7 linked regions of the Homo sapiens genome follow. The protein of the gene in region 7 purifies or fractionates together with the protein of the main gene of each other region. This does not show direct contact. Each region holds a gene or a part of one and is shown on either strand. Other genes may lie near its edges. The genes, in order: AREL1, ADCY9, CREB3L2, TUSC2, TMEM201, ADCK2 and SLC27A6.

Evidence for each region.
Region 1: the proteins of SLC27A6 (region 7) and AREL1 purify together in Homo sapiens (affinity purification with mass spectrometry; one large-scale study listed by BioGRID and IntAct). This does not show direct contact.
Region 2: the proteins of SLC27A6 (region 7) and ADCY9 purify together in Homo sapiens (affinity purification with mass spectrometry; one large-scale study listed by BioGRID and IntAct). This does not show direct contact.
Region 3: the proteins of SLC27A6 (region 7) and CREB3L2 purify together in Homo sapiens (affinity purification with mass spectrometry; one large-scale study listed by BioGRID and IntAct). This does not show direct contact.
Region 4: the proteins of SLC27A6 (region 7) and TUSC2 purify together in Homo sapiens (affinity purification with mass spectrometry; one large-scale study listed by BioGRID and IntAct). This does not show direct contact.
Region 5: the proteins of SLC27A6 (region 7) and TMEM201 purify together in Homo sapiens (affinity purification with mass spectrometry; one large-scale study listed by BioGRID and IntAct). This does not show direct contact.
Region 6: the proteins of SLC27A6 (region 7) and ADCK2 purify together in Homo sapiens (affinity purification with mass spectrometry; one large-scale study listed by BioGRID and IntAct). This does not show direct contact.

Annotation. Positions count from the first base shown.
Region 1 is NC_000014.9:74,671,581-74,675,080, reverse strand, and holds part of AREL1 (apoptosis-resistant E3 ubiquitin protein ligase 1), read left to right. Parts: intron 1-969; coding exon 970-1,047; intron 1,048-1,862; coding exon 1,863-2,004; intron 2,005-2,128; coding exon 2,129-2,250; intron 2,251-3,500. UniProt on the Homo sapiens protein: E3 ubiquitin-protein ligase that catalyzes 'Lys-11'- or 'Lys-33'-linked polyubiquitin chains, with some preference for 'Lys-33' linkages.
Region 2 is NC_000016.10:4,106,443-4,109,942, forward strand, and holds part of ADCY9 (adenylate cyclase type 9), read right to left. Parts: intron 1-3,500. UniProt on the Homo sapiens protein: Adenylyl cyclase that catalyzes the formation of the signaling molecule cAMP in response to activation of G protein-coupled receptors.
Region 3 is NC_000007.14:137,901,087-137,904,586, reverse strand, and holds part of CREB3L2 (cyclic AMP-responsive element-binding protein 3-like protein 2), read left to right. Parts: intron 1-569; coding exon 570-628; intron 629-3,164; coding exon 3,165-3,233; intron 3,234-3,500. UniProt on the Homo sapiens protein: Transcription factor involved in unfolded protein response (UPR).
Region 4 is NC_000003.12:50,325,424-50,329,365, reverse strand, and holds the start of TUSC2 (tumor suppressor candidate 2), read left to right. Parts: upstream 1-1,142; 5' UTR 1,143-1,266; coding exon 1,267-1,412; intron 1,413-2,888; coding exon 2,889-3,009; intron 3,010-3,179; coding exon 3,180-3,245; 3' UTR 3,246-3,942. UniProt on the Homo sapiens protein: May function as a tumor suppressor, inhibiting colony formation, causing G1 arrest and ultimately inducing apoptosis in homozygous 3p21.3 120-kb region-deficient cells.
Region 5 is NC_000001.11:9,595,411-9,598,910, forward strand, and holds part of TMEM201 (transmembrane protein 201), read left to right. Parts: intron 1-479; coding exon 480-600; intron 601-1,448; coding exon 1,449-1,643; intron 1,644-3,038; coding exon 3,039-3,215; intron 3,216-3,500. UniProt on the Homo sapiens protein: Critical regulator of angiogenesis and endothelial cell (EC) migration. Promotes the migration of endothelial cells, which is essential for angiogenesis.
Region 6 is NC_000007.14:140,671,629-140,675,744, forward strand, and holds the start of ADCK2 (uncharacterized aarF domain-containing protein kinase 2), read left to right. Parts: upstream 1-1,316; 5' UTR 1,317-1,702; coding exon 1,703-2,635; intron 2,636-2,982; coding exon 2,983-3,129; intron 3,130-4,116. UniProt on the Homo sapiens protein: The function of this protein is not yet clear. It is not known if it has protein kinase activity and what type of substrate it would phosphorylate (Ser, Thr or Tyr).
Region 7 is NC_000005.10:128,971,988-128,975,487, reverse strand, and holds part of SLC27A6 (long-chain fatty acid transport protein 6), read right to left. Parts: intron 1-3,500. UniProt on the Homo sapiens protein: Mediates the import of long-chain fatty acids (LCFA) into the cell by facilitating their transport at the plasma membrane.

The sequences.
Region 1 (3,500 bases), on a different chromosome or scaffold from region 7:
TTTGTCTTCTTTAGTATGTGTTTGAAATTTTCTTTAAACTTTTTTTTATCAAGAAAACAACTGACCTGCACATTCAGATAAAAGGGATTTTTTAAGATTAAAAAATTTTTGCATTGTCTTTTCCTCTTTTGTATGAACTTTTTTGTGTGAGGACCTTCCCCTATACCACCAACATATTCCACTCCAGCTCACCCCATCTTGCCTCCCTTCCCTGGCAGATCCTTGGCACCATTCAAATAGGTATAAAGCAGTGTGTATGGGTTGCTGGTGTTTGCTATCCAGTAACTTGGAGGAAGTCATTCTGAGCATCATGGGGCTGAGCAGAAGGAGATTTTGATTGTTTCTAGGTGAAATATTCTGTTCTCATAAAGTGAAAACCTGATCCCAGATATTTAGAAAGACTTGAGTATTACAATTATGAAATATCTCTGTGTGAAACTGCATTGTCAGTCATATTTTTTTTATTTATTTTATTTTTTGAGACAGGGTCTCACTTTGTCACCCATGCTGGAGTGCCATGGTCCAATCTCAGCTCACTGCACCCTCTGCCTCCCGGGTTCAAGCGATTCTTGTGCCTCAGCCTCCCGAGTACTTGGGATTACAGGCATGAGCTACCGCACCCAGCTAATTTTTTTGTATTTTTAGTAGAGACTGAGTTTTGCCATGTTGGCCAGGCTGGTCTTGAACTCCTGGCCTCAAGTGATCTGCCTGCCTCGGCCTCCCAAAGTGCTGAGATTATAGATGTGAGCCATCCACACTTGGCCATCAGGGTAATATTTTTAATTTGCCTTTTTAAATAGAGAGTTAATGTATTTATTTGACTTTAGTACTCACTAAATTATTACTTTTGTCCATGGAGAGGAAAGGTTATGAGAAATGTAAATAGGGACTATGATATTTGAATTAGAATACCCAAATAGAGCCTTTTTATTTATCATTCACTTCATTTCCTGTCTGTTGGTCCTCCAGCAATTCTCAGTGAAGGAGTTCTACCTGAAGATCATCCCCTGGCGCCTTTACACCTTCCGAGTGTGTCCAGGAACAAAAGTAAGCTGAACCTTACATCTGGTTCACATCAAGCATGCTTCATCTCTGGACTATCTCAGCCTTTTATTTTTTCTCAGAAGCACTTTTAGTGTTTCTGCAAGATCTCACAGTGTACACAGGATTCGTTGCCAAATAAAGCATCATTATCTCCTCACTAAATGGCATGAAGAATATATAAATTCTGGAAGGACGCATGCCTACAGAAACAGGAATTAGCAGCAACTCAGAATACTTCAACAGTGATCCTTTGCCTTCAAGACTAAGTTAATAGAGAAGATGTTTGTAACTCTGGCCCAAGCTTGGTCTCCCAGTGTGCTGAAGCTAACTCCTTTTAGAAGCACCACTCTCATATATTAAAATACATTGTTTGTTTGTTGTTAACTTTTCTGGGCTTCTGGAATCTAAACTTTTGCCCAAAGGCTAGAATGTGCCATTTTATAAAAATAGTTTTCTTCTGATCAGTTTGGAGTAGTCATTTATTGCTGTTTAATATATCCTTACTATTGCTATTTAATATATCACCGTATTGCCATTTATTGCTATTTAACATATCACCCTTCTTATATTTTATGTTAGAAGGTCTGTAGTTTTGCTGGTGGTCCTAACTAAAGGCAGTCTCTGTGACTAAAATAATTTTAAATGTTGAAATGTAAATCACTGAAGGGAAAAATAATGAAATGTATTTCTGGTAGGTCCTCATTTGGAGAAAACAAGCCTAACTTATTGTTGTTGGTTGGTACACAGGATAGAGCTGTGGAGGACTTTTACTGGCCTTGAGGGTTTTATAGATTAATTTCTTTGTTTTTCTTTACCAGTTTTCATACCTTGGTCCTGACCCTGTCCATAAGCTGCTCACACTGGTGGTGGATGATGGCATTCAACCTCCTGTGGAGCTCAGCTGTAAGGAGAGGAACATTCTAGCAGCCACTTTTATCCGCTCCCTGCATAAGAACATAGGTGAGGTTACACAGGGATTCTATAGGGAAGGTAGTGAGCCCAGCCACATCCATGAGGGTGGAGAGGCAGGACTACACAGATGGCTTGTAATGAGGCTGTAATGATGGATCTTGCTGTTCCCCAGGAGGCTCTGAGACCTTTCAGGACAAGGTGAACTTTTTCCAGCGAGAGCTTCGGCAGGTACATATGAAAAGACCACATTCCAAAGTCACCCTGAAGGTCAGCAGACATGCCTTGTTGGAATCGGTAGGTAAAATTTCATCTCTGTCAGCAGATACCAAAGTTTTCCAATTGAATGTCTATATTCTGCAGGTTACTGTTTTTGTTTTTGTTTTTGTTTGGGAGATAGGGTCTCACTCTATTGCCCAGGCTGGGGTGCAGAGGTGCGATCATGGCTCACTGCAGCCTCGATCTTCCCGGGCTGTGATCCTCCCAACTCAGCCTCCCAAATAGCTGGGACTATAGGTATGTGTCACCATGCCTGGCTAATTTTTGTATTTTTTGTAAAGATGGGATTTTGCCATATTGCTCCGGCTGGTCTCGAACTCCTGGACTCAAGTGATACACCCGCCTCAGCCTCCCAAAGTGTTGGGATTACAGGCATGAGCTACCATGCCTGATCTGGTTATCTTTTTCATGAAACTTAAATTTCTCTGTTTAAGTAAAGATATAGATATACTTATAAAAGACAGATATACTTATAAAAGACAGATATACTAAATTTCTGAAACCTAAATTTCTCTCTTTACATATGTCTGTTCTTCTATTTGATTCTACTAAATTTGGGGCAGTTTTGTTGGAGGTATGTTATCGAGGGAAGAGCAGTTTACTTACTGGCCTTCAAATCTACTGAATGGGTCCCTTGGAACTCCCATGTAGGGCAGGTGTAAATAGTGATTACAGAAGAAACTTCTTGTTATTGAATCCCTGGAATAGAGCGCTTGTTGAATTAAAAGGAAATGATTTTTGTTGTCACTTTGGTCTGATGGAAAAGGAACACCTGATGTGTGTCTGTCTCCACTGCACAGACACTGGCATAGTTCTTACATTCCCCAGGAATGAGAAGGCTTGGTTCCTGTCCAGAAAGTGTTTGTGATGTTTGGCTCTGGTAGGTGTGACTGGAAACCCGTTTTCTCAGCCATATTCTCCGTGTGGCATGGCTCGCTGTCTGAACCTAGCCTTGTGGATAAATATGTCTAGTGGATAGATCATACTTTGCTGAAAACCAGGATTCCTTGGTTCTTTTGCCTACAGCTTACTGACTTGAGTCATTTTTTACTTCTTTATGCAAGAATGTTTTCATTGCTAAAACAAGGATTGTTTAAAACAAAAGGAAAAGAAAAAAACAACTTCAGCTTTCCAACAAAGTGATGATGTAAAGGCAAATCAGATTATTTTTTAAAACTTTAAATTTGAAGTTATGTGCATTTTAAATGTCAGGTGGTATCATTAAAGCTTGTTTATGAGTAACATATCTCCTTCAGGCAGTCGTAGTT
Region 2 (3,500 bases), on a different chromosome or scaffold from region 7:
CCCTTCCTGTTTCAAAAACTCTCATCTCTTCACAAAATTCCCTCCAGGGATGCTAGTTCCTGTTGGAAAAGGTCTTGAGGTGTGTCACAGGCAAAGTACAAATGATATGCCCAGGGCCAGATGGATGACAGGCCCCTAAGCTCAGCTAGTCCAGAGTCAGGAGGGGACCTGCAGAATTCTAATGGTGAATGATTACACTCTTACAGTTTTGGAATTCCAGCAAAAACACCAATACTAAAATCACCAACCAAGACAAAGACGAGACTTACGGCCCACGCAGGCTTCTGCACACTCTGTGCCCAGACATGGACAGATTAATGTGGGTTGGTTGGTTGGTTTTTTTCCAAGATTACTATTCCACAGCAAAGTACATAGGCAACGCTGACCAATATGCAGAAACATAATTACTATCTCACCAAGCTGGCCAGAAGACAAAAATCTTGAAACTTCTTGACTTGCTCTAATTGTTCCTTCTCCATGTTTCCCTTCCTTAGGCATTCTACCTGAAAAGACAGCCCTCCCTTCCTTCTTCATCCCATTGGCAATTCAGCAAACCTTAACCTTCTCTTGCTTTACCAGAGGTTACTTCTACTCGAAAGCTTGTCTTCAGAATTAACAGCTGTGTCCTTGTCACTGTAAGCCAGGTCTCAAAGAGCCTGAACAAATGGTCACTGGGGGCAGCTTGAGTGTCGACTCTACTGCTGTTTTCTGTCTCCCACCCCAGCTGTGGAGGGGAACTGTGTGCCTCATCTCATCTCTGCCATTTGCTATCTGAGAGGCTGTATTTCCACGTGCATAACAGATCCTGCTCAAGAATGCAGGTCAAGGCTGGGCGTGGTGGCTCACGCCTGTAATCCCAGCCCTTTGGGAGGCTGAGGCTGGTGGATCACCTGAGGTCAGGAGTTCAAGACCGGCCTGGCCTACATGGTGAAACCCCATCTCTACTAAAAATACAAAAATTAGCCGGGCGTGGTGGCGCACACCTGTAATCCCAGCTATTTGGGAGGCTGAGGCAGGAGAACCGCTTGAACCTGGGAGGCAGAGGTTGCAGTAAGCTGAGATCACGCCATGGCATTCCAGCCTGGGTGACACAGCCAGACTCTGTCTCAAAAAAAAAAAAAAAAAAAAAAAAAAAAGAATGCAGTGCAGGTCAACACAGAATTTCCAAGCAAGGAGACTGAGCTCTGCTAACGGGTTAGCATCCCAGTGGCAAGGGTTGCAGGCTTAGGTGGGGACAAGCTAACGGGGGAAGGAAGGGGAACACCTGAGCATGCAACTGAACCCCAAACCAACACCTGGCTAGGGTTCTGTCAGCTGGCAGGCCCGTGCTCAGGGTTAATGGGGCGCCCAGATTTCCGGCATGAGACAGGTGTTTGTTTGCAGAGGCTAACGCATACAGAATGCCTCCGTCCACTGTCGGTCTGTCGGCCCACCAGACAGGGTCTACATAGGAACTCCTCTAAGGCAAAGGTCTCGATCACAGAGGTGGCCAACAGGTGACAATCTGCCCAAATGCATACCAGCGGGTCTCCTCCCCAAGTTGCTCCACAAGCATAAAGTTTGGCTGGGGAAAAAAGCTTTTTTAATTTCTGCATCTGACAATGTGATCACTCCCTGGTATTCCCCTCTTCAGAGATATGACCATGGGTGTGGATGAGAGCGGAGGAGCATCTTCATTCTGTCTTCCTAATATTTACACGGGAAAAGAAGATGCCTGTAGATATTTTCTAACAGTTTCATTTTCTGTCTTTGTGACCCTGTATCTATGACAGGAAAAGCCAACAGCTCGAGATAACACGTCTCACCATTTTTTGCTTGTGGCCCAAGGCAGAATACAACAGCCACGGTTCCCTCAGGCCTAGCGGTTTCATCCCAAATGCTGTGGAAGGTCCCTCACCTTAATCAGACCGTTTCTTCATTTTTTTTTTTTTTTTTTTTTTTTTTTTTTGGCGACAAAGTCTCGCCCTATCGCCCAGGCTGGAGTGCAATGGCACGATCTCGGCTCACTGCAAACTCCACCTCCTGGGTTCGAACGATTCTCCTGCCTCAGCTTCCCAAGTGGCTGGGACTAAAGGCGCCTGCGACCACACCCAGCCAATTTTTGCATTTTCAGTAGAGACAGGGTTTCACCATGTTGGTCAGGCTGGTCTCAAACTCCTGACCTCCTGATCTGCCCACCTCGGTCTCCCAAAGTGCTGGGATTACAGGCATGAGCCACCACGCCCGGCCCATTTCTCCATATCTTTAATAACTGTCCCTCACACTTTTTTTTTTTTTTTTGAGACAGGGTCTCATTCTTGTCGCCCAGGCTGGAGTGCAATGGTGCAATCTTGGCTCACTGCAACCTCCGTCTCCCAGGTTCAAGCAATTCTCCTGCCTCAGCATCCCGAGTAGCTGGGATTACAGGTACCTGCCACCACACCTGGTTAATTTTTGTATTTTTAGTAAATATGGGGTTTCACCACGTTGGCCAGGCTGGTCTCAAACTCCTGACCTCAGGTGATCCGCCTACCTCGGCCTCCCAAAGTGTTGAGATTACAGGCATGAGCCACCATGCCTGGCCCCTCACTTTTTAGATTATTTCCAAAATCCTAGCAGTATGCTAAAAATTCCTGCAACCTTCTCCCAGTGACTGGCCACCCTAGATAAGATTTCTCACACTCGTACACCCCATCTGCTGTATCCCCTTCCTGCTTTATGTTTGTTCACAAAACACTTTTTCTATTTTACTTATTTATGGTTTGACTCCCCTGTTGTCCCCTCTATTAGATCTCCCCTATTTGAAGGCCTGGTTTTTGTTTCTTAGAGACAGGGTCTCACTCTGTCGCCCAGGCTGGAATGCAGTGGTGCAATCACGGCTCTCTGCAACCTCGACCTCGTGGGCTCCAGCGATCCTCCTATATTATTGACTTAAAAATTCTTGTCCCCTATTACAAGAGCAGGAATTGTTGTCTGTTTTGTTTACGGCTGTATTGCCAGAACCCAGAACCGTGCCTGGCACGGAGTAAATGATTTGCTGAATGAGTAAGCAAGCCAGGGGTTCCGGGCCTCTGTACTCTGCAAGTCCATCCTGCATTCTCCATTCATACCATAGCAACTTCAAAGGCCCCTCACCCATTCCTGACTCCACATTGTCGCCAAGTCACTTCCAGAAACTTAAAATGCCATTTCCCATTCACATGGTCAAGCCCTTCCCCTCCTGCCAGTCGTTTGTTTAAATCTGGCTTGCAGTCCCATCAAGCTGCTCTTCCTAATGCCACTCAGATCCCATCACCTCCATCACTGCTACTGTAACTTTGGATTGGGCCACCATCACCCCTACCTGGGATTTACTCGACACCTCATTAATCTCTTTCCAACCCACACTCACTAGCTCTGAAAGAGTGAACTTTCTAAAACTGCAAGTCAGATCACCTAAGCCCCCTGTTGAGTGGTTCCCTGACACCTATGGGGTCAAATGCAAACTCCTTCCCACGCTACCCATGGCCTTCCTTGTCCTG
Region 3 (3,500 bases), on a different chromosome or scaffold from region 7:
ACTCAAGCGATTCTCTTGCCTCAGCCTCCCAATTAGCTGGGATTACAAGCATGCACCACCGCGCCCAGCTAATTTTTGTATTTTTAGTAGACGGGGTTTTACCATGTTGCCCAGGCTGGTCTTGAACTCCTGACCTCAGGTGATCTACCCGCCTTGGCCTCCCAAAGTGCTGGGATTACAGGCTAGAGCCACTGCGCCTGCCATTTTTTTGTATTTTTAATGGAGACAGGGTTTCACCATGTTGGCCAGGCTGGTCTCGAACTCCTGACCTCAAGTGATCCGCCCACCTCAGCCTCCCAAAGTGTTGGGATTACAGGTGTAAGCCACTGCTCCTGGCCACTCAGTGTCCATTTTACTGGTGGCCTGGTTTGTAGGAAAGTAGGTGTGAGTTTGGCAGCTAGAAACCCGGGAGGACAGACTAGTCAATGAACCAGCAGCTTAAACAAATGGCAAGCAGCTTGCAGAAGTAAGCAGGGCTTTGGTGACTTCTACGCTAACCACCTCCCATCTTAACTGGTTTACTTACAGAGCTGGAAATTAATCATTCTCCTCCCACTCCTCTCTCTCAGATTTCTGCTCAGGAAAGTAGGAGAAAGAAGAAAGAATACATGGACAGCCTGGAGAAAAAGTAAGCCTGCTGGCAAACTGTTGCGTTCATCGGGCAGTATGCACAGGGAAATATGGGTGTGCGGAGAATCGGGGAGAAGCAGTTCAATTCCTCTTTCTGGCCACCTTGGAAACCCGGTGGTTTATCAGCTGTGGTTTGCCTGCCACCTAGTGGTTATTTGGAGGAGACGTCTATAATAAAGCAAGAAAGAAGTGAAAGTACCTTAGTAGGTGTTTGAATCATACCACTGCCAGCCAAGGACCCCGGAGTCCTCACAGACTTCTTTTCAAACACATACAAATATTAACATTCCTGCACATTCCTGGAACTTCTAGCAGGAGAAGCCCTGTTTTAGCTGAAAGGAGCAGTGCTACTTAATCAGCCCCCATTGGCCACACTCCTTCATGCTCTAGAGAGGGCACATAGGGAAAGAAAGATGTCAGGTTGGCAGCCTTTATTTTCCAGCCACTACAATTCATGTTTTTTTTTTTTTGCAAAAACACTTGAAGGCAATCTTTGTTCTTTTGAAAAGTCTGTAATATCAGGCGGGCTGTTAGAAAAAGATGAATTAAATACAGTTTTGTCTTAGCCCTGGAAGTTAGTTCTTTAGCTAACAAACCAAGATATTTTTAAGATGGGCATGAGGCCCCAGACCCAGAAATGAACTTCATGTGGATCTGGGGAAAGGAGTGGCTGGTGGTTCCTGGCTGTTTCTCAAAGCTACTATTGAAAGTTTAGTGCTTCTATCACCTGACTTAAGTACTGGTAATGCAGCATTAAGTATAGTTGGCTCTCCATATCTGGGGGTTCAGCGTCCTCAGATTCAACCAACCATGGGTCTAAAATATTCAGAAAAAAACTTCAATAGGCTGGGTGTGATGGCTCACTCTTATAATCCCCGTGCTTTGGGAGGCCAAGGTGAGAGGATTGCTTGAGCTCAGGAGTTCAAGACCAGCCTGGGCAACATAGCCAGACCCCCTAAAAAATAAAAAAAAATTAGCCAGGCATGGTGGTGCACATCTGTGGTCCCAGCTACTCAGGAGGCTGAGAGGGGAGAATCACTTGAGCCCAGGAAGTTGAGGCTGCAGTGAGCTGTGATTGTGCCACTGCACTATAGCCTTGATGATAGAGTGAGACTCTGTCTCAAAAAACCAAAGCCAAAACCAAACAACTCAATAAAAAAAAACTACAACAATAAAAAATAATACAACTATAAATACAAGATAACACATATTTACATAGTATTTACATTGTGTTTGGTATTATAAATAACCTAGAGATGATTAACATATACTGGAGGATATGTAAAGGTTATATACAAATACTACACCATTTTTTAATCAGGGACTCGAGCATCTGGAGATTTTGGTATCTGTGGGGAGTTCTGGAACTAATCCCCCCTGAATACCGTGGGAAGACTGTAGTCCCATGCTGTCCCACCATTTTCTATGGGCATCCAGGGTCAAGATGTTCCTATGAAAGTCTCTTTACTGTCTCTTTTGGGCATGCGTGCCCCAGCACCAGGATTCCTAGTCCTGGGCTCTCGTCCTGCCCTTTGCTTAAGTCTCTTCACTTCTTATCAGTCCTGGTAAGAGTGTAGCTGGGAGTATCCAGATTACTGTAGTATAGAGGGAGAAGTATGATGGGCATTGAGAACACTAGGGAGGAGGTGAGAGGAAAGAGGTTGTAACACCCTAAAAGAGGGTCATATTTTGTACTGTCACTATTCATCTTTCATTATTCAGGCACTCATCACTCAGCTCCCTCTTTTTTTTTTTTTTTTTTGGAGACAGAGTCTCGCTCTGTGGCCCAGGCTGGAGTGCTGTGGCATGATCTTGGCTCACTGCAACCTCTGCCTCCCAGGTTCAAGTGACTCTTCTGTCTCAGCCTCCCAAGTAGCTCGGATTACAGGCACACACCACCATGCTCAGCTAATTTTTGCATTTTTAGTAGAGATGGGGTTTCACCATGTTGGCCAGGCTATTCTTGAGCTCCTGACCTCAAGTGATCTGCCTGCCTCAGCCTCCCAAATTACTGGGATTATAGACATGAGCCACTACGCCCGGCCCCAGCTCCTTCTATTTTTCTTTTTTTTTTTTTTTTTTGAGACAGATCTTGCTCTGTCACAAGGCTGGGGTGCAGTGGCGATCTTGGCTCACTGCAACATCTGACTCCTGGGTTCAAGCGATTCTCCTGCCTCAGCCTCCCGAGTAGCTGGGATTACAGGCACGTGCCACCACGCCCAGCTAATTTTTGTATTTTTAGTAGAGACAGGGTTTCACCATGTCGGCCAGGATGGTCTCTATCTCCTGACCTTGTGATCCGCCTGCTTCGGCCTCCCAAAGTGCTGGGATTACAGGCGTGAGCCACCGTGCCCGGCCTATTTTTTTTTTTTTCTTAAGTCTCTTCATCCTTCTTTCAATACTTTCCCACACTTCCATGGGGTGGCAGATCCCCCCAACCCTCCTTTTCCTCATCCCCACCTACCTCCACCCTAGCTCCTAGCTTAGTGTTTGCTCTATGGATAATAATTTTCTTCTTTCTCCCTCCTTTGTAGAGTGGAGTCTTGTTCAACTGAGAACTTGGAGCTTCGGAAGAAGGTAGAGGTTCTAGAGAACACTAATAGGTAAGTGTCACTGGACTGAGAGCTGATTGCGCTACCAATGGAAGATGGGGAAGGAAGAGGATAGAATCCAGAACCAGGGATGGCAGAAAAGTGGAGGAGGTCACAGTGAAAGTGCAGTTGTGCTGAGATGCTCAGCATGGCCAAACTCCACCCACCCACTCCTGCTACACACACACGCATGCACACGTGCTACTCTTGCACATATACAAACACATATGCACACATGCTCTCATGTTCACATCCACAATACACATATGTACACACTCT
Region 4 (3,942 bases), on a different chromosome or scaffold from region 7:
GTTCGAGGCCAGCCTGGCCAGCATGGCGAAACCCCATCTCTACCAAAAATACAAAAAAAATTTAGCTGGGCGTGGTGGTGGGCGCTTGTAGTCCCAGCTACTCAGAAGGCTGAGGCAGGAGAATCGCTTGAACCCGGCAGGCAGAGGTTGCAGTGAGTGGAGATCACACCACTGCACTCCGATAGAGCAAGACTCCAACTCAAAAAAAAAAAAAACGGCCGGGCGCAGTGGCTCAGGCCTGTAATCCCAGCACTTTGGGAGGCCAAGGCGGGTGGATCACCTGAGGTCCGGAGTTCAAGACTGCCTGACCAACATGGTGAAACCCCGTCTCTACTAGAAATACAAAAAAATTAGCCGGCATGGTGGCAGATGCCTGTAATCCCAAGTACTCGGGAGGCTGAGGCAGGAGAATCGCTTGAACCCTGGAGGCAGAGGCTGCAGTGAGCCGAGATCGTGCCACTGCACATTATCCTGGGCGACAAGAGTGAAACTCCATCTCAAAAAAAAAAAAAAACAAAACCATCCCTTCAACACACACACACCACGCTCTGGGAGAAGGTGTGGCATAACTCCTTCACCAAATACAGAGCTGCCACCGTGGACCAGACACTGCTCGTGATACCGAGGGTATAGCTGTTAACAATTCTTGCTTTCATTAAGCATGGACTCTGCTGGGTTTGAAAACACTGAATTCGAAGTTCTTCAGAACTGAATGTAACTATGTGAATCTGGCCAGTTCCTTAATTTTCTTTCAACTTGGTTAGTTCACATAAGCGTGGCAATCGCAAAAATACAGCTGTGAAAATAGAAGCCAGATGGGCACCCGGCGGTCTGGCCTTAGGCCCTGAAGTGCAGGTTTGAGGATTGGTGCTTGCGAAGTCCTGCTAGGCCTGAACTCAGGTGTTGGGGGACGTCAGAGCCGCCAAATACACCCAAAAGACCGGGAGGACTCACGGCCACCACTTTCCTCGGTGGGAGCTGTCCCAGCTGGTCAGATCGCGCTTGCTGGGACCTGGGATCTCGCAACGCATGCTGGGATGCCCAGCATCTAAGGGCGCCCATTGGTCCCGCCCCCACGACTTGAGCAACAGCCAATCAGAGGTGGCAGCGTGCGGAAGCGGAAGTGAGGTTTCCGTGGAGACAGCCGAGCCTGCGGAAGGCGGCGGCGGCGGCACCTGCGATCAGCGGCTGGGGCAGGTTATGGTAGTGCGGACTGCGGTGTGAGCAGAGCGGCCACGGGGCCCGCCATGCGCCGGCGGCCCTGACATGGGCGCCAGCGGGTCCAAAGCTCGGGGCCTGTGGCCCTTCGCCTCGGCGGCCGGAGGCGGCGGCTCAGAGGCAGCAGGAGCTGAGCAAGCTTTGGTGCGGCCTCGGGGCCGAGCTGTGCCCCCCTTCGTATTCACGCGCCGCGGGTAAGGGCATGGGTTCCACCCTGGCGGGGGGAACAGGCGGGCGGCCAGGCGTCCCGCGCCACGGGGGAACTTCCACCGCTGTACCCCACTACAGCCAAGCCAGGACGACCCCCATATTTTGAGCCTCATTGGAGCTGGGGGTGGAGAAAGCCGGGCAGTGGTCTCCTGGCGGCCTGGCCACTCTGAAAGTCTCCCTAGGGAAGAGTGGGCCTGAGGCTTGTCACTGGTCGGACCTTCCGCACGGTAAAGCTAAGCTAGGGCCTCCATAAGACCTCCATAAGATCTCTTCCTTTCATCCCTTCCGGCTCAGCCTGCATACTGAAGGGTCCTAGCCTCCCTTTCCCCCCCAGTTATTCCAAGGGGATAATAACCCTCTGTTTAGGCTGCTTTTCCTGACAGTAGTGGGGCTGAACCTTTGAGCGTAGTGGCTGGGAAAGCAGGGATAGGCCTCAGTATTGGGGGTGAGGCTGAGGAAAAAAGACCCTCACCCAGTTATGTTCTCCAGATCCAGAGCGCTGACCTACCCACCCAACCCCCAGCCCAGTCTCCCAGAGGCCCGCACAAGAGTACCAGATTGGCTTGGCTCTAGTGGGCTCCTGGAGATGGGCGCTCCCTGTGCTAGAGATTTGGCTGTAGACACCAGGAAGACCCAACAGTGGCAATTCACCAGCCACCTGGGGTGTGGGGTCAGGGGAGACGCAGCCTTCATTCCTTTGTGCTTCTTCCTAGCTTAGGCTTCTGCTATTTCAGTCTTTGACACTGGGCCAGCAGCATCTTCTGGAGTGAGACCAACATGCCCAGGCCACCACCCTGCCCACTCTAGAAGTCCTGGGTGAAGGCAAAGTCCTGATATTAGAATGGCTGCCCTTGCTGAACAAATCAAGGATGAGAACTGGCCTTGGTGGCTGCCTGGATGGTGTGCTCTGGTGTGGGCTCTCTTCTTGGGGGTCTGACATAGTAGCACTGCCCACCCATCACCTCACTTCCCACTTTCTTCTAGTAGACCCCAAACCCCAGGCAAAGGATTCTCCAGGCAGGCCAGGCACCGTGGCTCACGCCTGTAATCCTAACACTTTGGGAGATGAAGACGAGTGGATTGCCTGAGTTCAGGAGTTCGAGACCAGCCAGAGCAACATGGCAAAACCCCGTCTCTACTAAAATACAAAAAATTAGCAGGGTGTGGTGGTGCATGTCTGTAGTCCCAGCTACTTGGGAGGCTGAGGCAGGAGAATTGCTTGAACCCAGGAGGCAGAGGTTGCAGCAAGCTGAGATCGCGCCACTGCACCTCCAGCCTGGGCAACAGAGTGAGATTCTGTCTCGAAAAATTTTTTTTAAAAAAAGGATTCTCCAGGCATATTATCCTCTTTTCTTCCCACTTGGGGTTGGGAAGACCACAGACTTCCCCGTGACCTGTGACATTTGCCATGCCCAGGTGTGGGGCTCCAGCCCAGCCTGTTTCCTTCTCCCTCTACACAGCTCTATGTTCTATGATGAGGATGGGGATCTGGCTCACGAGTTCTATGAGGAGACAATCGTCACCAAGAACGGGCAGAAGCGGGCCAAGCTGAGGCGAGTGCATAAGAATCTGATTCCTCAGGTGAGGGGCTGGGCAGCGGTCACAGAGCCTACACTAAGCGTGTGGAGGTGGACCCAGATGGGATCTGTTGTCATGGTGGGGGCTTTTGCGGGGGGATCTGGGAGGAACAAGGAAGCTTCCTGAAGTAGAGGCCCTGAGCTGACCCTTACTAGCCTCTGTTTCCATGGCAGGGCATCGTGAAGCTGGATCACCCCCGCATCCACGTGGATTTCCCTGTGATCCTCTATGAGGTGTGACCCTGGGAGGTGGCAGACAGAAGCACCCCCTGCCCCGGCAAGAAACTCCCAGGCTCAATCAAGGTGTGGCTTCCATTGAGGAGCCCAGGCTGGGGCCACAACCCTGAATAAACTCTGTTGGCCCATAACCTTCAGCTGTGAGCGGGTCGGTCCCACAGTATTGGTTGGGTGTTGGTTTGTGTGTGGACAAGAGGTGGTTGGTGGGTGGTGAAGGCTAATGGCAGAGTTAGCACCCCACTCTCCCAAGCCACCCCTGCAAGCAGCACAGCAGGGCATATACCAGTCAGGAATGCCCGTTACCTGGTTCCTTGCCTGGTCTGCTTTCTTCCAAGTTTGCCTGGGGCCTAGCCCTGCTAGAGGCTACAGCACTTTACAAGCAAGGTATGCTTTCTTCCAGCCCCTAGGCTGTGGGCACTGTATACAAGTAGGAACTTCCTTTCCTTCACTTCCCTTTTAACCCCTAGTCAGAGCATTTCAGCCGTTTGCTACCTCGATTCCTCCTGTGTTGGACAGAGGCTGGGGGCAGTGCCAGCCTGATTCTTCCGACCTACCTGCCATTTGTTCCCGCCTTCAGATGGATGGACAGTTTGCTGGCTATTGATAGGAGTGGGGACTGGGTGGGGGCTTCTCCCTCTACCCAGGGCTGGGCTGATCCCCCTACTGCAACTAACTGTTGCCCCCCAACCCCGAACCCCCA
Region 5 (3,500 bases), on a different chromosome or scaffold from region 7:
TCCCTGGGGCGCACCCTTTCTGCAGCCCAGGATCAAGGACCTCGTGGGGGAGGGGTGGTCCTCGAACCTGGTCCCAGTCAGCCCTGGTTTGGCCAGCCCTGGCCCCTGTTGTGCTCCATGTGTGAGCCCCAGGCCACCAGGAGCAGGTGGCCCTGGGTCCCCGTGCGGCCGCACTGGAGCCTAGGGATCTGCTGAGGCTCCAGCTGGCCTCCTCCCCTTGAAGACTGAGAAGCCCAGGTTGGCCGTGGCCTCCCTGTCTGGTCCTGGGTGGATGCAGCCGTACCTAGTCTGCGTTCCTCTCCTTCAGAGCCCTTGTTCCTCCTGCTGTTCTGGGGCCAGCATCTCCAGCTTTGCATCCCCAGATCCCAGATCCCACTCCCAGCACCCTTTCCCTGGTGGCCCTGGGGCAGGGCATGGAGGTCCCTCTCCAGCAGGTGCTGGGGTCTTCCAGGCCAACCCGCTCTTTCCTTGGTCCACAGGATGAAGCCAACGCACACGATGGTCAACTGCTGGTTCTGCAACCAGGATACGCTGGTGCCCTATGGGAACCGCAACTGCTGGGACTGTCCCCACTGCGAGCAGTACAACGGCTTCCAGGAGGTGTGGGTCACAGGCAGGCGGACGGGTGGGCACGCGGGGGTGGGGATCTTGAGATTTGCACCTTGAGACCACCCTGTGTCCCTGCCCTGCCCCGGGGCTCATGGACCCCACACCCTCATACCCTGTCCTCTCCAGGCCCTGAGCATGGTGTTTCGTGTACATTGTCTCACTCGATTCTCACCACTGCCCTGGCGCTGTCTCCTCACTTGAGGAGGAACCCGACGCAGGGAGCCATGGCAGTTTGTCCAAGGTTACACCACTAAAAGTGGCAGATTTGGGGTTCACACCCAGGTCTTTCTGGCTCTGCATCTCATTCTCTGTACTATATCAGGGCTAGCAAACCTTTTCTGCAAAGGGCCAGATAGTATTTTAAGCTTTGGAAGCCATTTGGTCTCTGTCACAACTGCTAACCCTGCTGAGCCACCGTAGGTAATACAAGAGTGAATTAGCCTGGCTGTGTTCCAATAAAACTTGATTGCAGAAACAGGCAGCTCCTCCACGGGTCATAGTGTGCTGTCCCCTGGACTAGACCAGGGTTTGCAGACTGAGTTCCGAGAGGGTAGGGCTCTGAGGACAGATGCTGGCTAGAGGTGTGTGGGTGGGCGGCGGGCTGCAGGCCCTGCTCTGTGCTCAGGCTAGGTGGCTTCACTCGGCATCTGGGCCTTTGGGTTCCATGGAGGTGTCTTGAGAAGAAAAGCAGCTGCTGTTGTGTGCAGAAGAAAAAAAAGAATGGAGATGTTTGAGATCTACCATCACTTGCCTGGAGCGGGGCGGGCCCCCAGGGACATCACCAAGCCTGAGCCAGCTGGGAGGGCCTGCCTGCCTCGAGTCCCACCTCTCTCCCGCAGAACGGCGACTACAACAAGCCGATCCCCGCCCAGTACTTGGAGCACCTGAACCACGTGGTGAGCAGCGCGCCCAGCCTGCGCGACCCTTCGCAGCCGCAGCAGTGGGTGAGCAGCCAAGTCCTGCTGTGCAAGAGGTGCAACCACCACCAGACCACCAAGATCAAGCAGCTGGCCGCCTTCGCTCCCCGCGAGGAGGTGAGGCCGGGTTGGGAGGGCAGGGGTCCTGGCTGGGGCCAGGGATGCTTAGAGCAGCCGGGGGACAGGCACGTGCAGGGTGCTGACTCTGGTCCTCTGGCCCCTGCTCTGCTAGACAGCGGCTTTTCTGTTCTGAGTGCCCAAAGGGGCCCCCTCATCCTTGCCACTGCCAGCACATTCCAGGATGTGTTAGTTCTTCTGACCCCGTTGGAGCTGAGCTGCTTCTCCCCATGTCTTACAGTCACTGCTATCGGGGTTCCAAGCCTAGGAACACCGTGGAAACCCCAGCACCTGCCAGTCCAGAGGAATTTGTCCCTGGGCAGAGGGAGGAAGGGACCTTGGGTTCCAGGTGGGGCCCTGTTGGACCCACTCTGTCCTGTTTCTCTGAATCAGCCTTGCCTGCTGGTGGCCCCGGCAGTCTGCTGTGGGGTTGGTGGAGGATGCCACTGGCTTCTGGGAGGAGGAGGAAGCTAGACATTGCTGAGAGGCTTGGCATTAAGGAGCTGGGCTGAGCTGGGAGCCTCACCTTGCCTGTGCCCTCCATGGAGTCCAAGAGCCTTGCTTACTGGCTGCTCCTTCCTGCCCTCGGCCAGCCCAGGGAGTCCTGTCACCTCAAGAGGCAGGTCCCAGCTGGGGCCCAGAGACACTGGCTTTCCTGGGGTCCAGCCTGGGAGGGAGGGAGAACAGAGGTGAACTCAGGCCAAGGCAGGGATGGGGAACCTGCGAGAAGGGGAAGGCAGGGGTGACTTGGCAGCCAGGCAGCTTTTCGGCATGCTTGGTCGCAGCAAGGGATCACACTCCTGACCCTCCTGGCCTTGCAGGCCAAAACGTTTGCTTCCTCAGAAACAGGGAGGGAGAGTTGCAGTGCTGCACGTCTAAGGGCTGAGAAGGAGGGGACTTGTCTTCTGGGCTATTTCAGAAGCTGAAAGAAACCTTCACCTGCCACAAAGACAGGCCTGGCCAGGGGCTCTCTAGCATTCAAGCGGAAGGGCAAGCGCCACAGTCGGGGTTGTCCATCTGCCCCACTCCAGGCAGTGTCAGCCCGCAGCCACCTTCCCCCATGTTCACCCACCTTCTTGGAGCTCTGCATCTGGGGAGCAGACCCTGAGCTCCTGGCCTGCGGGTGCGTCCCTGGAGCAACAGAACCTTGTTAGTGTCCCCATCACTTGTGGGCCCTGCCCTGGATTGGCTCTAACTCCCGGTAGTCCACATGGCTCTACACAGTGGGCATTTGTCCTGTTGGGCAGAGGGGAAGCAGGTTCAAAGTGGGGTTGACTTGCCCCCGGTCATCCCCTAGTAAGTGGCAGGTCAGGATCTGATTCCACGTCTGACCTGTAAGATGGAGGCAGCTCATCCACCCCTGCAGATGCCGAGCCTGTTCCCCCAACCCCACAGGGCAGGTATGACGAGGAGGTCGAGGTGTACCGGCATCACCTGGAGCAGATGTACAAGCTGTGCCGGCCGTGCCAAGCGGCTGTGGAGTACTACATCAAGCACCAGAACCGCCAGCTGCGCGCCCTGTTGCTCAGCCACCAGTTCAAGCGCCGGGAGGCCGACCAGACCCACGCACAGGTGAGAGGCGGCATCCACAGGGCGGGGGTGGGGGTGTTGAGTTTGTTCAGGAAACCCTCCCAGGAGGCTGGGCACTAGTGACCAGAGGGTAGCTCTTCAGAGCTGAGCCCCTTTATTTTTATTTTATTTTATTTTATTTTTGAGATAAAGTTTTGCTGGGATTACAGGCACACGCCACCACGCCTGGCTAATTTTGTATTTTTGGTAGAAACGGGGTTTCTCCGTGTTGTTCAGGCTGGTCTCGAACTCCCGATCTCTGGTGATCCGCCTGCCTTGGCCTCCCAA
Region 6 (4,116 bases), on a different chromosome or scaffold from region 7:
GAAATATTTATTGGGCTCAGTGAGTATTATTGAATGAATGAATATGGCCTTTCCGGAGCCTTTCCCCAAGGTCCAACACAATTGCCGAATTAATGCAGCCGAGGACACAGCATCCAGTTCCTACTCCTGCAGCCCAGTTACCCCCATCCAACACCACCCCCCTACCCAACCCCCGCTGAAAAGCGGACCTGTGTTCAGAACCTGCCTTCATACTTTTCAGCCATGCTCTTTGGAATAATGAAAGATACGAAGAAGTCAGTGGGAAGATAGACATGGGGAGGGGGACATAGAGGGTGCCTTTGCGTTTTGCTACCCAGGACCCAGGACTCAAGGGCAGGGTGGTCTTGGCCTGGGGTCGCCGTCCTCTTTAAGGGGCGGGTCAAGGGACCCTGGCTGCCCGGGCCTCTGCCACCGACCCTCTGCTCCCTCCGACCCTCACCGCCCAGCACCCAGCCCTCTGCCCCCACCGGCCACCCTGTAACAGCCCAGCGGGTTCACCTTGCCTGCTGCCTAGACAGAGCCGATTTATCAAGACAGGGGCATTGCAATAGAGAAGGAGTAATTCACACAGATCAGGCTGCGCGGGACACTGGGCAGAGTTTTTAAGGACAACTTGGTGGGTGGGGGAAGGCCAGTGAGTCGAGAGTGCTGATTGGTTGGGTCGGAGGTGAAATCTTAGGGAACTGAAGCTGTCCTCTTGTGCTGAGTTAGTTCCGGAGTGGGGGCCTAAGATCAGATGACCTGGTTTATCGATCTGGTAGGTGTCAGTTGATCCATCAAGTGCAGGGTCTGCAAAATATCTTGAGCACTGATCTTATTAGCAGTTTAGGGAGGGTCAGAATACTGTAGCCTTGCTGCCTGACTCCTAAATCATACTTTCTAATCTTTTGGTTAATTTGTTAGTCCTACAAAGACAGTCTATTCCCCAGGCAAGAAGGAGGTTTGTTTTCAGAAAGGGCTGTTATCATCTTTGTTTTAAACTATAAAGTATAAACTAAGTTCCTCCCAAAGTTAGTTCAGCCAACGCCCAGGAATGAACAAGGACAGCTTGGAGGTTAGAAGCAAGATGGAGTTGGTTAGGTCAGATCTCTTTCATTATCTGTTATAATTTTGCAATGGCGGTTTCAACCTAGTGGCCGAACCCGTCCCATCCATCTCCCGCGCCCCTCCGCTCCACCACAGCCCTCGGTGCCTCGGTTCCCTGCACCTGCACTCCCGCCCGCCCCCGACGCTCCGCCCCCGACGCTCCGCCCGCCCTCCACGCTCCGCCCCGCCCTCCCGGCCCCCGCCTGCGCCCGCGCCCTGGGCTGGTGCCCGCCACCCCAGCGATCTCATACTGGCCCCTGGGCGCACGGTGACCCTGCGGCTGCCCGGCCCCTGCCTCCGCCCGCGCGGCCCCCTCGCTCAGGTCGCGGGCGCCCGGGGCCTGGCTTCGCGTGGGTCCTGGCTCCTCCCGTTCCGCAGTTGGTGCCGTCTGACAGCCCCTTCCGCGCGGCGCGGCGCGGCGCGGCGGGTGTCGGGCGGGGCGCGGGCCTCCGGCCTGAGGCCCGGCGAGGTGCTGGAGGGAGCGGGGCGCGGATCCGGCCCAGATGGGCAGCTCCGTCCGCGGGGTCAGGGCCGGGCTTCGGCTTCACCGCAGCCTCGCCTGAGCGGGCGCCTCTGAAGTGGAGGGCGGGCCGCCTGGGCCGCGGGCCTCGGGAGGATGGTGGCGCCCTGGCGCGTCTCCGTCAGGGTTTGCCTGTCGCACCTGAGGTGCTTCGAGCTCAGACAGGGACTCAGCCTCCTGAGGCCCTCCGAGTGCCCTCGCGATGCCAGGCTCTGCTGGCTTCTGCTGGGCACTTTGCCCAAGGTCGTCTCCCTGTGCGGGGACGTGGGTGAGGGGGCCCCTGACGTTCTGAGTCGGCGAAGGGTCCGCTGCAGCGGGGCGGCTGGCGCGGGGCCCGCGGAGAGCCTCCCCCGAGCGGGACCTCTGGGCGGCGTCTTCCTGCATCTCCGCCTCTGGCTTCGCGCCGGCGCTCTGTTGGTGAAATTCTTCCCCCTCCTACTCCTCTACCCCCTCACCTACCTGGCTCCCAGCGTCTCCACCCTCTGGCTCCACCTGCTTCTGAAAGCCACCGAGACCTCAGGCCCAACCTACATCAAACTGGGCCAGTGGGCCAGCACCCGGCGCGATCTGTTTTCGGAGGCTTTCTGTGCCCAATTTTCCAAGCTGCATGTCCGAGTGACGCCCCACCCGTGGACTCACACTGAGCGCTTCCTTCGGCAGGCTTTTGGGGATGACTGGGGGAGCATCCTCTCTTTTGAGAACCGGGAACCTGTGGGCTCAGGCTGCGTGGCCCAGGTGTACAAAGCATACGCCAACACTGCCTTCCTGGAGACTGACAGCGTCCAGAGACTTGGCAGGGCCTCCTGTCTGCCGCCCTTCTCACATACTGGGGCAGTCGGTGGGCTGAGAGAGCTCTTTGGATACCTTGGAAATGGCCGGAAACCTCCAGAAAATCTCGCAGACCAGTCGTTTCTAGAAAGGCTGCTCCTCCCTAAAGCTGACCTGGTTGGATCAAATGCAGGGGTGTCTCGGGCTCAGGTCCCTGGCCACCAACCTGAGGCCACCAACCTCATCTCCGTGGCAGTGAAAGTAAGTGTTGTGAGAGCTCACAGCTCACCTACCCACTGAGCTATCCCAGATCAGAAACAACCGCCATGCAAATCGCCCCCACGTTTATTTCTATTTGCCTGACCAATATCTGAGTGCTTATTTCATGCAAGCTGTTTCATTTATTGGCTTGAAGTGGCGGTGTGAATAGTCTGATAGAGGAAAATGAACTGAGTCTGGAGTGAACTAACTGCTTGGGTGTCGGGACCACATCCTCTTTTCTTTGATAAGAAGCCACCTGGCTCTTGCTTGGATGGTGGGACCCAGCCCTGGCTGGGTAAAATGTGTCCAGCAGGTTTCTCCTGTCTCACGGTTCCTCTTTCTGACAGGTGTTGCACCCTGGCCTGCTCGCTCAGGTGCATATGGACCTGCTGCTGATGAAGATTGGCAGCCGAGTCCTGGGAGTTTTGCCAGGCATCAAGTGGCTTAGCTTGCCTGAGATTGTGGAGGAATTTGAGAAGCTGATGGTCCAACAGGTGAGTTCTCCTCCCCTCAGCTGTAAATAGCACCTAACATAGTTCTTGCCATTAGCTGCTACTTAGTAAATGTTGAATGAATAATTTTCTGGTATGTCATAACTCATGTGATGTGTTAGAGCTGGTAACACTAGCTGATAAAGAACATCCAAATCTCAGTGGCTTAATGCAACAAATTAATTTTTTGCTTATATCAAAGTTCTGGCCGGGCGTGGTGGCTCATGTGTGTAATCCTAGGACTTTGGGAGGCTCAGGCAGGTGGATCACTTGAGGCCAGGAGTTCGAGATCAGCCTGGCCAACATGGTGTAACCCTGTCTCTACTGAAAATACAAAAATTAGCTGGGCGTGGTGCTGCATGCCTGTAATCCCAGCTACTCAGGAAGCTGAGGCATGAGAATTGCTTGAACCCAAGATGGAGGTTGCAGTGAGATGACATCATGCCACTGCACTCCAGCCTGGCGACAGAGTGAGACTCCATCTCAAAAGAAAAATAAAAACAAAAAACAAAGTTCTATGCAGGTGAACTGAGGCAGAGAAAGGGAGCTCTTTATTTTATTATTTTAAAAACAGAGACAGGGTCTTGCCATTGTTGTCCAGGCTGATTTTGAACTCCTGGGCTCAAGCCATTCTCCCTCCTCGGCCTTCCAAAGTGCTGAGATGACAGAACTAAGCCACCGTACGGTCAAGAGAGGGAGCTCTACTCCCTAGTTTCAGGGGACTCAATTTCTTCCCAAGTTTGGCACTGCCTCCTTCAACATGTGTCATCTGGGGTCAGTGTGGATTGGAGGCAGAGGCCATGCAGGGTCATGTAATAAATTTTGTGGCCAGGCCTGGAAGTGGCAAACATCACTTCTTTCCTGTTCACTGATCAGAGCTGTAACTGCCTGGGCCCAGTGTAACTGTGAGCTTGGGAAATACAGTCTTCCTTTGTGACAAGGAAATGATTCTGGTGGAGAACATCTAGCATTATTTCTGCCATAATCAAT
Region 7 (3,500 bases):
AGGAGCAATAACCCATACCACAGCGCCTAGGTGTGTAGTAAACTATGTCATCTAGGTTCGTGTAGGTACACTCTATGATGTTCACACAACAACAAAATCACCTAACACATTTCTTTTGTTTGTTTGTTTGCTTTTGTTTTTTGGAGTCTCACTCTATTCCCCAGACCGGAGTGTAGTTGCACGATCTCAGCTCACTGTAATCTCTGCCTCCTGTGTTCAAATGATTCTCCTGCCTCAGCTTCCCAAGTAGCTGGGATTACCAGTGTCTGCCACCACACTCGGCTAATTTTTGTATTTTTAGTAGAGACGGGGTTTTGCCATGTTGGCCAGGCTGGTCTCAAACTCCTGACCTCAGGTGATCTGCCTGCCTCAGCCTCCCAAAGTGCTGGGATTACAGGCGTGAGCCACCACGCCTGGCCCGTCTAACACATTTCTAAGAAAAGTATCCTTGTCATTAAGTGATTCATGACTGTATATACTAGCTAACATCAAATAAGGTTGTAGCTGCAAAATCCAAATGAGATCCCTTATTAAAAGCCCCAGGATTACTCTATAATCATAATAGCAATCATTTAAATACAATAAGATCTACTTAGTACATACCAGGCACTCAGCTAGCCACTTTACAAAAGATGTGTCATTTAATCCTCAGAATTATACTGTGAATCAGATGGTATCATCACCATTTTACAACTAAGTTCAGTGAGATCCAGGGTAACTGATGATATTATCTTTAACCATACAGCCAGGAAGTGGCAGACCATACATGGAATTTGGGTCTGTCTGGCTTACCTCCGTCTGAACCACATGATTCATCTTTCTACCTCAATATACTCTCCCTGGGGGTATAATGATTTAATAGTACACCATCAGAAACATCCAATGAGAATCCAAGAAATCTGAAATTTAATGTGCTAAAAAGAGTATGTTTATATTGTTCACAAATGAGACTCCAGATGCCAACAACACAGTATTTTAAGTATAAAAGTGACTATGATCTAAGCTACATCTTATTACAAAATCTGTTAATCAAAATAGAATTTTTCCATCTTTGGAAAACATATATCTCATTTATATTTGAAGGTATGCCAGAAAGAATGGGTGACTTCTCCAGTGACCTACTTACCGAGCCAATCAACTAAATAGTCTTGGCTTAAAACTTCAGTATCCCAAAGTGGCTTTTTTAAATACAAAAAACTGACTGTTGGTGTTAAAAACAAAAATAAGAAAACAATGCAATTAGTTATTGGCAAGCAAAGTAAAAGCTGGCACAAGTAAAACTGCAAAATTAATTGGTCCTAGTTAAACAACAATTCGGTCAACAGAAAAGCCTGAATGCTCTATCTTGAGAAGTAGCCAGTCCTATGTACTTTAAGACGAATCTCTCAGGAAACCGGCTTTGGAATGTCTCCATTTTTTCAGGGACACTGTGGCCCTCTTGGTTGGCCCTTGTAAACAGAACTTACGGCCTTATCAATTATTAGCAAAACTTGGAGTTTACATTTGCTCCTAGACCCTTTCCTCCCGTAATGAAAACAAGATTAAAATGAGTGCTCAGAAGTAAACCTTTGTGTTTTTATTGTTCCAAGATAGCTGAATAGGAACAGCACCAGTCTATAGCTCCTAGCGTGAGCGACGCAGAAGACAGGTGATTTCTGCATTTCCAACTGAGGTACCGGATTCATCTCATTTGGACTTGCTGGACAGTGGGTGCAACCCACAGAGTGTGAGCAAAGTAGGACAGGGCATCGCCTCACCTGGGAAACACAAGGGGTCAGGGAATTCCCTTTCCCAGCCAAGGGAAGCTGTGACAGACGGTACCTGGAAACTCGGGATACTCTCACTCTAATACTGCACTTTTCCAATGGTCTTAGCAAACAGCACACCAGGAAACTATATCCCGTGCCTGGCTTGGTGGGTCCCACACCCACGAAGCCTTGCTCACTGCTAGCACAGCAGTCCGAGATTGAACTGCGAGGTGGCAGCAAGGCTAGGGGAGGGGAGTCCACCACTGCTGAGGCTTCACTAGGTAAACAAAGCAGTGCGGAAGATCGAACTGGGTGGAGCCCACCACAGCTCAAACCGGGCTGTGTGCCTCTGTAGACTCTACCTCTGGGGGCAGGGCATAGCTGAATAAAAGGCAGCAGACACTTCTGCAGACTTAAACGTCCCCATCTGACAGCTCTGAAGAGAGCAGTGGTTCTCCCAGCAGGGAGTTTGAAATCTGAGAACCGACAGACTGCCTCCTCAAGTGGGTCCCTGACCCACGAGTAGCCTAACTGGGAGACATCTCCCAGTAGGGGCCAACTGACACTGCATACAAGCAGGTGCCCCTCTGAGACCAAGCTTCCAGAGGAAGGATCAGGCAGCAACATTTGCTGTTCTGCAGCCTCCGCTGGTGATACCCAGGCAAACGGGGTCTGGAGTGGACCTCCAGCAAACTACAACAGACCTGCAGCTGAGGGTCCTGACTGTTAGAAGGAAAACTAATAAACAGAAAGGAATAGCATCAACACCAACAAAAAGGACATCCACATGAAAACGCCATCTGTAGGTCACCATCATCAAAGACCAAGGGTAAATAAAACCACAAAGATAGGAAACCAGAGCAGAAAAGCTGAAAATTCTAAAAATCAGAGTGCCTCTTCTCCTTCAAAGGATCACAGCTACTTGCCAGCAATGGAACAAAACTGGATGGAGAATGAATTTGATGAGGTGACAGAAGCAGGCTTCAGAAGACCGGTAATAACAAACTTCTCCGAGCTAAAGGGGGATGTTCGAAACCATCACAAAGAAGCTAAAAACCTTGAAAAAAGATTAGATGAATGGCTAATTAGAATAAACAGCATAGAGAGGACTTTAAATGACATGATGGAGCTGAAAACCATGGCACGAGAACTGCATGATGCATGCATAAGCTTCAGTAGCCAATTTGATTAAGTGGAAGAAAGGGTATCAGTGATTGAAGATCAAATGAATGAAATGAAATGAAACGAGAAGAGAAGCTTAGAGAAAAAAGAGTAAAAAGAAAAAACAAAGCCTCGAAGAAATATGGGACTATGTGAAAAGACCAAATCTACGTTTGATTGGTGTACATGAAAGTGATGGGGAGAATGGAACCAAGTTGGAAAACACTTTTCAGGATATTATCCAGGAGAACTTACCCTACCTAGCAAGGCAGACCAACATTCAAATTCAGGAAATACAGACAACGCCACAAAGATACTCCACAAGAAGAGCAACCCCAAGACACATAATTGTCAGATTCACCAAAGTTGAAATGAAGGAAAAATGTTAAGGGCAGCCAGAGAGAAAGGTCGGGTTACCCACAAAGGGAAGCCCATCAGACTAACAGCTGATCTCTTGGCAGAAACTCTACAAGCCAGAAGAGAATGGGGGCCAATATTCAACATTCTTAAAGAAAACAATTTTCAACCCAGAATTTCATATCCAGCCAAACTAAGCTTCATAAGTGAAGGAGAAATAATATCCTTTACAAA